Homo sapiens: one gene and its partner. The protein of the gene in region 2 purifies or fractionates together with the protein of the main gene of each other region. This does not show direct contact. Each region holds a gene or a part of one and is shown on either strand. Other genes may lie near its edges. The genes, in order: RPA3 and FBH1.

Evidence for each region.
Region 1: the proteins of FBH1 (region 2) and RPA3 purify together in Homo sapiens (affinity purification with mass spectrometry; 2 studies listed by BioGRID, with this or other methods). This does not show direct contact.

What each region holds. Positions count from the first base shown.
Region 1 is NC_000007.14:7,635,823-7,638,718, reverse strand, and holds the end of RPA3 (replication protein A 14 kDa subunit), read left to right. Parts: intron 1-746; coding exon 747-855; intron 856-1,636; coding exon 1,637-1,719; 3' UTR 1,720-2,201; downstream 2,202-2,896. UniProt on the Homo sapiens protein: As part of the heterotrimeric replication protein A complex (RPA/RP-A), binds and stabilizes single-stranded DNA intermediates that form during DNA replication or upon DNA stress.
Region 2 is NC_000010.11:5,892,974-5,900,279, reverse strand, and holds part of FBH1 (F-box DNA helicase 1), read right to left. Parts: intron 6,304-7,306; exon of another isoform or gene 5,791-6,303; coding exon of another isoform or gene 5,769-5,790; exon of another isoform or gene 5,225-5,768; coding exon of another isoform or gene 5,093-5,224; exon of another isoform or gene 3,222-5,092; coding exon of another isoform or gene 2,810-3,221; intron 1-2,809. UniProt on the Homo sapiens protein: 3'-5' DNA helicase and substrate-recognition component of the SCF(FBH1) E3 ubiquitin ligase complex that plays a key role in response to stalled/damaged replication forks.

The DNA of each region.
Region 1 (2,896 bases), on a different chromosome or scaffold from region 2:
CTCACTCTGTTACCCCGGGTGGAATGCAGTGGCACCATCATGGCGCACTGCAGCCTTAGCCTCCCAAGATCAAGTTGCTCCCATGTCAGCCTCCCCAGTAGCTGGGACTACAGGCATGCTTAACCATGCCTGGCTAATTTTTGTTTTGTTTTGTTTTGTTTTGTTTTGTTTTGTTTTTTGTAAAGATGGCATCTCCCTATGTTCCTCAGGCTGGTCTTGAACTCTCGGTCTCAAGCAATCCTCCTGCCTCGACCAGCCCCTCAAGAGTTTTCGATTTTATTTTATTTTCTATTTTTGTTCATATATTTCCAGTTTTTACTTATTTATGTTTGCATTTTATGTTTAACATACTTAAAACTTTTTTTGGTATTTTGTGAAGACAAATCCATATGCTGTTTGGTTAATGTATACAGAACACATTGTGAAATACAGATTATAGAAGATTCCTCTCATAGGATATTACTGCTTATAGAAATGCTGGACGTTTTCAATAGTGATTTTGTCTTTAACTTGAATTGTAGCTTTGGACTTGAAGCTACTGCTAAAGGTAGCAGGAATTTTAACATGCTGACAGTTAAGTACTCAAACATTTGTTAACAAGTTACATTTTAACTTTTACACTGGTAATTCTTAAAATTACTTTGTTACTTGAAGTGATAGATTAGTAACCTGTATAACAGTTTTCCAAAATAATTGTCAACTGAAAATGTGATATCACCAAATCGATGTCTTGTTCTGTGTCTTAGCTTGATGAAGAAATCTCTGGAATTGTGGAAGTGGTTGGAAGAGTAACCGCCAAGGCCACCATCTTGTGTACATCTTATGTCCAGTTTAAAGAAGATAGCCATCCTTTTGGTAAATAAAGCATTCTAGTATTGACTGGTTTTATGTAATTACATAACATACAGTTTTATATAACTGTATGTAATTACATAACATACAGTTTTATATAACTGTATGTAATTACATAACATACAGTTTTATATAACTGTATGTAATTACATAACATACAGTTTTATATAACTGTATGTAATTACATAACATACAGTTTTATATAACTATGTTTTAACATACATTTTGTATTACATACAAAATTGTATGTATTACATACAATTACATAACATAAACATACAGGAAAACAGTTTTATTTTTAGTTTGATATATATTGGTCTAGAGTTTTAGTACTGCCACATTTTCAATTTCTATAGAATTTTGTGATCGTAAAGGCAAATGGGGGTACATTTTGTTTTGGCCTGCTTTTAAGTAGTGCTTATATATGTAAGAAACTCAGTAAAGATTAATTAATGTTTGTTGAAAGATAATTTTTTTAAATATAACAAAAATAGTATTAGTTTTTTTGTTGTAATATCTGAATTGAAGGAATTGAATAATGCATAACACCCAAAACACTACCAGGCAGAAACTGCCTGTATAATGAACATCAAAATGGATGGTACTCCCATGTCTTTTTTTTGGTGCCACAGTTAAATACAAGAATCCATAATCCATATCTCCATTTTTAGAAACTCACTTCCAAAAGGGTGAGAAAAAGGAAATAGGTAAAAATATCTTAGATAATAATTGATGTTACAACTTTCCATTGTAGATTAAATGTTTGCTTAAATGTTTCTTTCAGATCTTGGACTTTACAATGAAGCTGTGAAAATTATCCATGACTTCCCTCAGTTTTATCCTTTAGGGATTGTGCAACATGATTGATCTTGATGGATTTTCATACGATTGTAAATGAGCTATATTAAAGTCTATTAAAGGAAGCCCTTCTTGTTTGAGGGAGAGATTTCTGTGCTTTCTCATATTTAATTTGCTGTTTTTAAGATATTCCAACCTAGAGTTTTTGATGGAACTGATATATTGACAGTTCTCACCGAAGTCCTTTTATAAAGAATTGCTACTCCAATATATGGTCAGATTAGATGCAAGAATAAAGCAGTTGTCCGAGTCTAAGTTTCTATTTTATTAATAAAAACTAAAATGGTACGTACTATCGGTCATTTCATTTTCATTCTTTTAATCATGTATTCAAGCACAAACTTGAAATTTCATAGCCATAAGGTCAAGATTTAGACCTACCAAATAAAACCTTGGGCCAGCTGTGTTAAGGATTTGCTCACCTTTTCCCAAACTATACCTTGATAATTATTTCCTTGATACCCTACTTACAAAATGAAGTAGATGACATTAAAAAGGCAAACAGAGACTGGCCACGCTGGCTTACTCCTGTAATCCCAGCACCTTGTGAGGCCGAGGCGGGTGGATCACCTAAGGTCAGGAGTTCGAGACCAGCCTCACCAATATGATGAAACCCTGTCTCTACTAAAAATACAAAAATTAGCCGGGCGTGGTGACATGCGCCTGTAATATCAGCTACTCAGGAGGCTGAGACAGGAGAATCACTTGAACCTGGGAGGCGGAGGTTGCGGTGAGCCAAGATTGCACCATTGCACTCCAGCCTAGGCAACAAGAGTGAAGCTCTGTCTCAAAAAAAGGCAAACAGAATCTTACATCTTCTGTAATCTGTGAAGTATCTCTTTTTCTGGCTTGGTTTGGTTTTGTTTTTGTAGAGACAGGATCTCACTCTATTGCCCAGGCTGGAATACGGTTGTGCAATCATAGCTCACTGCAGCCTTGAACCTCTGGGCTCAGTCTCCCAAGTAGCTCAGACTACAGGTGGGCACTACCACGCCCAGCTAGATTTTCCTAAATTTCCGTGTAGAGATGGGGTCTCACTGTGTTTCCCAGGCTGGACTCAAACACCTAGCCTCAAGCAATCCTACCGCCTTAGCCTCCCAAAGTGTTGGGATTACAGGTGTGTAACAACCATGCCCAGCCTTCCTGGGTTTTAAAATAGCATTTACTAAATTCCAAACAAGGAATA
Region 2 (7,306 bases):
CTCAAAACTGTCTGTCAAATTATCCAACTGCATGCATACAAACTTACCTGTTTCCTCTATTTAACAAGGCTTATGTGAGTAGCCTGCCTAAGACATTGAAATATCCTTCAAATTATAAAGATGCCACCTAATGGCAAAGCAGGAAGTGTATTAGCAGCCCAAATACAGCCAATTCTGTATTACTGGAAATACCTTCTAAACTAACCAGTAACATGTCTCGCTTATTATGAACAGAAAAGCAAACACCCCCTCCACTTTGATGGTTTTGTGCTGGTTTGTGCTGGTTCTGTAATGTTGCTGACCAGTTTATTTAGAGGAAAACAACAGCAAATCATCTTATTCACACAGAAACAAAATATGAATGTGAAGTTTCTCTACATTAAAAACTAAATTTGAAGTTTTCTACATTGGAAAGAAAACAAAGTCTTGTTGTTCTCTTTTTAAAAAATAAGATGAAATTTTATTTCCTGTGTTCAAAACCCTTCATATTACAAATATAACGCAAGGACTATTTTGCCTGAATGGGGACCTCTGGGCATATCTGCAAAAGAGACAGGTAGAGCGGCAACATGGCTTCCAGAACACCCGAAAATCCTGGGTGAGGTGCCCCACACAATGCTCAACAGCAGGAGCAGCTGCAGGACTCCGGGCAGCAAATCCACAGGCCCTATAGATCCAACAGAGTGGACTCATGCCTGCTTTTCTCTCTCCTCAAACAGTCCCAATTGCTTCAGAGCTGGTCAGTACAGTATCTACAATTAGAACTGGAGACACTATGTGTCCTGATGAAGGGTAAGGAAAAAAGGAAAAAAATAAAATAAATAACTGGAGACACTCACTAAAGAAAGTTACCAAGAGTGAATATCTCACTTAAATAGGAGGTGAACATCTACTGCCACAATGGCCTGGAGAAGAAAAGCTTTCATGGATAAAATCATGAAGGAAAAAAACAAAACAAAACAAAACAAACAAAACAAAAAATCACAAAGGAGCAAGATCAACATCAAACCACTCATATCTGAGACCCAGGACCTCAGGCCAGCTGCAGGCCTGCTTAGCTGAATGGTGTGTCAGGTACCGAAGGCTTCTGAAAGTCAACGAAAAGGCACATAACCAGTGAGAAAATCAGGCTCAGTTGAAGGGTCTGATGCCCACCCAAATCTATGATGGCCTTCTACATTTGGCTTTTGGAAACAGCTACAAACAGAGGCTGGCAGATTTGTATAGAAGAGGTACCTACACATGCAGGGTGAACCCTGGAACGTTTTTTGTGAAGTATGTAAGAATGGCTTTATCGAAGCCTTCTGCAGCCACCTCACTGTAACAACGGTGCATTGATAATGACCATCAATGAGATGGAGATGTCTCATCACATGCCTGAGAGTCGAAAAGACAGTAAGCATGCCCCAAGGTAAGCAGCTAGCCCACCTGGTTCACTGCTGTAACTCTGTATGTAGATAGCGTGGGGCCAGACATATAGTCTGTGCCATGTACTCAACGTTCATGTCCCTGAAATTCACACACTGAAATCCTCACCCGCAAGGTGACGGTATGAAGTGGTGGGGCTCTGGGCCAGGCACAGTGGCTCATGCCTGTAATCCCAGCACTTTGAGAGGCCAAGGTGGGTGGATCACTTGAGGTCTAGAGTTCAAGACCAGCCTGGCAACATAGTGAAACCCCATCTCTACTAAAAATATAAAAATTAGCCAGGTGTGGTGGCGGGCACCTGTAACCCCAGCTACTCAGGAGGCTGAGGCCCAAGAATCACTTGAACCCGGGAGGTGGAGGTTGCTGTGAGCCAAGATTGTGCCACTGCACTCCAGCCTGGACAATGGAGAGAGATTGTGTCTCAAAAGAAAAAAAAAAAATGCGGTTCTAGGAAGTGATAAGGTCACAAGGGTGGAGTCCCCACAAATGGGATTAGTGCCCTTATAAGAGAGGTCTCAGAGAGCTCCCTTACTCCTGCCACCATGTGAGGACACAAAGAGAAGGTGCCGTCTATGAACCAGGAAGCGGCCCTCACCAGACACCAAATCTGCTGGCACCTCGATCTTAGACTTCCAGCCTCCAGATCTGTGAGTGAGAGAGACTTCTGCTTATAAGCGGCCCAGTTATGGTATTTTGTTATACCAGCCCAAATGGACTGAGGCAGCACACGTTCTGTGAATACTGAGTGGGTCAAGAAGGATGAGGAGCAGGGAGAAGAATTCGGCTGGGAGGTCCAGGAGCCTACACTCTAATCCCTAGGAATATACTACAGAACTGCTCCCACAGGGAGACCTCCCTGGTAGCTCACAACAGACTGATGACAGAACATCAAAAATGTTCAGTCCCAAAGGGAACTGCTTTGGAAAAGGTAATATGAACAGGATAGATTTTTATTTATGTATTTATCTCAGAAAATACGTCTGAATCCAAAATGCTTGTTGCGAAGATTAAGTGTTTGCAGAAATCTAACAAAGACACAGGAGTAACAGAAAGTGCTAATGGGAGTGTTGGAACACTGTGTTCTGCTTCAAGGGAGTCCCGGTATATTCCAATATGTTCTGGCATGAAGCCACCCTGGGAGGAACTGAGGTTCGGTACCGGGGGAGGGGCGCTTAGACTGGTGATCTGGCCTCTGTGCACTAAGATAAGTAACCTATATAACTGGAATGGCGTTACCAGCCATAGTTTGGCTGGCGGGAGAGCTGGTACTTTTATTGGATTTTTATTAACACTTTTATTGGATTCCCCACCCCTTGGACTTATTGGATATATGTATCAAAAATAACTTTTCTAACGTCAGCTGGAGGTCAGGAAAACTAACCTGTATCTCTGGTCTCAGAGAGAGGTGCTGTGATGCTCTGAACTGGGAGCCAGGAGCCCTGTGTCCACCTCCTCCGCAGGAGCCCTGTGTCCACCTCCTCTGCAATTACACGCTTTACACTTAATGTTCCCTTAAAGCCCCTCCGAGGCTGTGGGGTGCAGGAGAAGACCCACACTTGGCAGGTATATTCATCGCCAAAGCCTTGCTTATGAAAACGAGGATTATAATAACCTGCCATGCTGAATTCAGAGAATGAGACAATATATATGTAAGTACTCAAGCCACCCACATTGAGGGTGACAACACCTATCTCTAAATCTATGTCAACACCTAGCAACAGAAACGTCAGAAGAAATATGTGACTACCACACCAATCTGAGGGTCTCCTAAGGCACATCAGTTTTAATAGCATTAATGTTCTTGCTAAATGGTTAAAAATAAAACCAAAACACTACACTAGAATTCTAATCACCCTTCTATTCTTATTAATATACCTTTTTAAAAAGCAGTTCAAAAATAACTTTATCAAAATAAGAATGCTCAAATGCTACTTCTTCCATAAAAATCCTCCTTCCCTGAGTCACGCAAAGCTCATGGTATGCCTCCCTCTCTACACAGCAAGTGCACTTTACACCTCCTGTAAAGGGCATTTACTGTTAGAAGCTGCTTGTGATTCTTTAGGGAATGAAATTATCTGTGGTGAATGACCACAGATAAAGGGAAGCTGTGTCTAAACTAGGGGTTCTTGTGGGTGCAGAGAGATTAGAATCACTTACGGGGCTTTGCAAACTCTACAAGGCCCCCAGAGTTGTTGAAATTGGTCTCCTACACACCAAATTCGGCATCTGTGCTCCCACCCTTGGACACTCTCTTCCACAATAACCAACAGAAATGTGTTAGAGCCCTCAGGTGTCAGGGTAGAAAAACCAGAATGTACACAAACCATTTTGTCAAATGAATATTCCCTAGGCTTAAGTAAGCTCATTCCCACACTGCCTTTTCTGTGACGGCTTTCTAACAGTGTGACTTCTCTGTCCTCCACCCCAGGGGTCCCCATTCCAGGACCCACCTCTCTTTGCTAACCCTCAGCTTTTAGCCCTACCCCAGCAATTCCTGGCCTTTGCTGACTTTGAAGTGGTCAGATCTGGAGTTTAGCCCTCCACCACCCCTCAAATCTCTTCACCTTGATGACAGTCTATCCCCTCCCAGCCCACTCTGACCCACTCCATGCCCTGGTGAGGTCCCCCGATGGAGATGAGACCCTTATCAGTCTCCCCTGAACGAGTCCTTACAAGAACTCTGCTACGGGGAACTAAAAGGAAGGGACCACGTCTATCCCCTCATTCCTCAAAGTGCACAAGGGGGAAACAAGAGACACTCCTGCAGTCGCAGAGTGAGAACTGCGTGTCTGCCACTCCTCCCCTATGCTTTCATTTGCCTGGCTTCTTTTTTTAATCTTCTTTATTGAAAACAACTTACAAAACAAGTCACAGAAAGTGAAACTGAGTGTTTCAGGTTTTGCTGCAAAGAATGTTGTTGCTCTTCTCCCTGAGCACACAGCTGGGCTATACTTCCCAGTCCTGCGTGCAGGTGGATGTCGCCTTACCGCTGGGTGCCAGCCAATGCAATGGGAACAGCAGCAGCACACGCCTCTTCCAGACCTGCCCTCCACTCTTCTCCTCTTCCCCTTAACTGGGAAGCTGATTCCCAGGACATCCTTAGAAGCCGGGTGTTCAAAATAGAAGAGCCTCCAGCAGCCTCAATCCTCGGACTACTGCTTTAAAAAGAACCCTCCCTCCCCACACCTACACACACAAACTCCAACCACCACCATGACCTGTAGCCTCCTTAGATTGTTATGGGATTGAAAAATAAACGTCTATTGTGAGGCCATTACATGTCTGGATCTATTTGTCACTGCAGCAAAGCTTACCCTAACCATTCAGGATCATTTGAAATGGATACCAAATAATTTCCTTTCTTCCTCTACCTTTACTAATCAGAATTCATACCAAAAAGTCCTTTAAAACTTTTAGGTTACAGACCTAAATGGACAAGATGAAGACAATAAGTACCTAGAATTCCTGGAAGTAAATATTATTATTAAATAATTGCTTTTTCAAAAAAAAATCAAGTTGACTCGCTAGTACAAGGTACCTGACTGGAGAAACTGCTACAATACCATACCCAACTTTAACAAAGATCCACAGAGGGCAGTTTTGCTAATCTGGACAATTTTGGAGTCAGCTAACCGCCCTGGTCAGTTTCCCACATGCCTCTTACTTTCAGCGTGCTCTGTGAAGACCAGCAAGTGGGCACTCGTCCTCTGGCATCTCCTGTGGAGATGGCCCAGGGGCCCTGCGCAATGTAGCCCATTATCACATGACTCAGGCACTTGACAGGTCCAATGGCAGCCTGTGAAACGGGAATGGCCCAATTTCAACAGTTAACTGTGTTATCTCTCAACTCCAGCACCATAAAAGTATTCACTCAAGCCAGGAAGCACTTCGCAGGAATAAAACCGCCCTGTACACCCGAGATACTTGTAACAATTCTTTGTGTAAGTGTGCATTTAACATGTGTCTTATATGAATTATTGTTTTTAATTGCACTGTATTACATATTATATTAATAACAATTATTTGTATAAGTCTGTATTTAATACGTCTTCCATCCCAGACTAAAAGCTCTCTGCTCTAGTGGGAAGGAGTAGAGAGGTACTCACACCCAGCATGTAACACACATTGCTTCATAAACAATTCCTGATTAAACGAACAAATGTGCAGCTGCAGCACTTCTTCTGAAGTGTGGGCTGTCTTCCTTGGCTTTGAAGCTCTCAACTCTCCCAGAGCTCCTAAGTGCTTTACAGCTTTTGCAGTTCTTTCCTATATTCTCGTCTGACCCTCAAAGCAATCCTACAATTGTGCCATGATTAAGCTGGGGCTCAGAGAGGACTTGCCTGAAGTCACCTCGTAGCTCATGAGTGATGGTGCCAACACAAGAACCCGGGTCTCCTGACTCCCCTAGTCCAGTGCACTTCCTACTGTGACATTCTTCACTCTGTATCTAGACACCTTGAAAGCAGCTTCTGAAAACCTCAAGTTTAATTTCCATATTACATTTTTTTAAAATCATTGTGAAATGTCAGAACCAAAGAAATTGAGAAGTATTTGGAAAACATAACTATAAGGAAAATACCACTAAATGCTGTAGACCCGAAATGGAAAAACTTCAAAATATTGTGTCCCCATTAGCTCTAAAAGAAACGAATGCAGAAAGCAAGCAAAATAGAGCTCCAGCTCCTTTCCCAGGTATTCACTGACGCAGAGCCAGGCTACCACAGCCTGCTTCTCCAGAAATCCAAAAGTTCCCAGGCAGTAAGCTCAATCTCCCCGGGATCCTCTCACATCTGAGACACCTGTGACTCCCTTGGAGACAGCACTCGTGTATGACAGCCAACAAGGATGGGCTGGGCTTTCCGTTCTATGTTTTTCCTAAAGAAAGAAAGGAATGTTTGAAAAACAAGAGAAAGATCACTACTTATGGTCTAGAATATAATTTTATATATTTGAAAGGCTTTTTCTACAGTCAATTCATTCCACAACTACTTTTACGTATCTGCTATGTCCCAGATTCATTTTAAACTCCATGAGAGCTTTGTCTTATGGTATCCTTGGTGTTAAATGCTATTTTAGACATTAGTGATACAAAAGTGAATAAGCCTACCCATAAGGCAGCTACCAAAACAAACACAAGTTACTAAAGATAAAGTAATATAACAACTACATAAATGCATGCATGAAGTGTTATGATAGTAAAGAAACATAAATAGAGTTAGGCAAGTTGAAAAAGGCTTCACGAAGAGTTGAGTCTTGAAAGAATCATGGGATTCAGTAAGGCGGAAGGAAACAATGTGTGCAAAAATACAGAGGCATTAACAATGCACTAGAGTGGCAGGAAAGCTGGGCTTCATCAAAACAAGAGGTTCCCTGATGAGGAATGACAGGAGATAAGGCTGGAAAAGGAATTTGGAGCCACAGACTACAAAGGTCCTTACACATAATGATAAAGAAATTGGGCTTCAAAAAAAGAAATTGGACTTTATCAGGTAGGGGCTTCAAGGTATCATCCAATTTTGTTTGTTTGTTTGTTTTTTGTTTTCAGACAGAGTCTCACTCTGTCTGTGGTCCAGGCTGGGGTACAATGGCACAGTCTCGGCTCATTGCAACCTCCGCCTCCCAGGTTCAAGTGATTCTCCTGCCTCAGTCTTCCGAGTAGCTGGGACTACAGGTGCACACCGCCACAGCCAGCTAATTTTTTGTATTTTAGTAGAGATAGGATTTCACCGTGTTGCCCAGGCTGGTCTAGAACTCCTGAGCTCAGGCAATACACCTGCCTCGGCCTCCCAAAGTGGTAGGATTACAGGCGTCAGCCACCGCGCCCGGCCTCATCCAATTTTTAAAGCAGGGTCATTACACAATCAAATTTACACTTTAG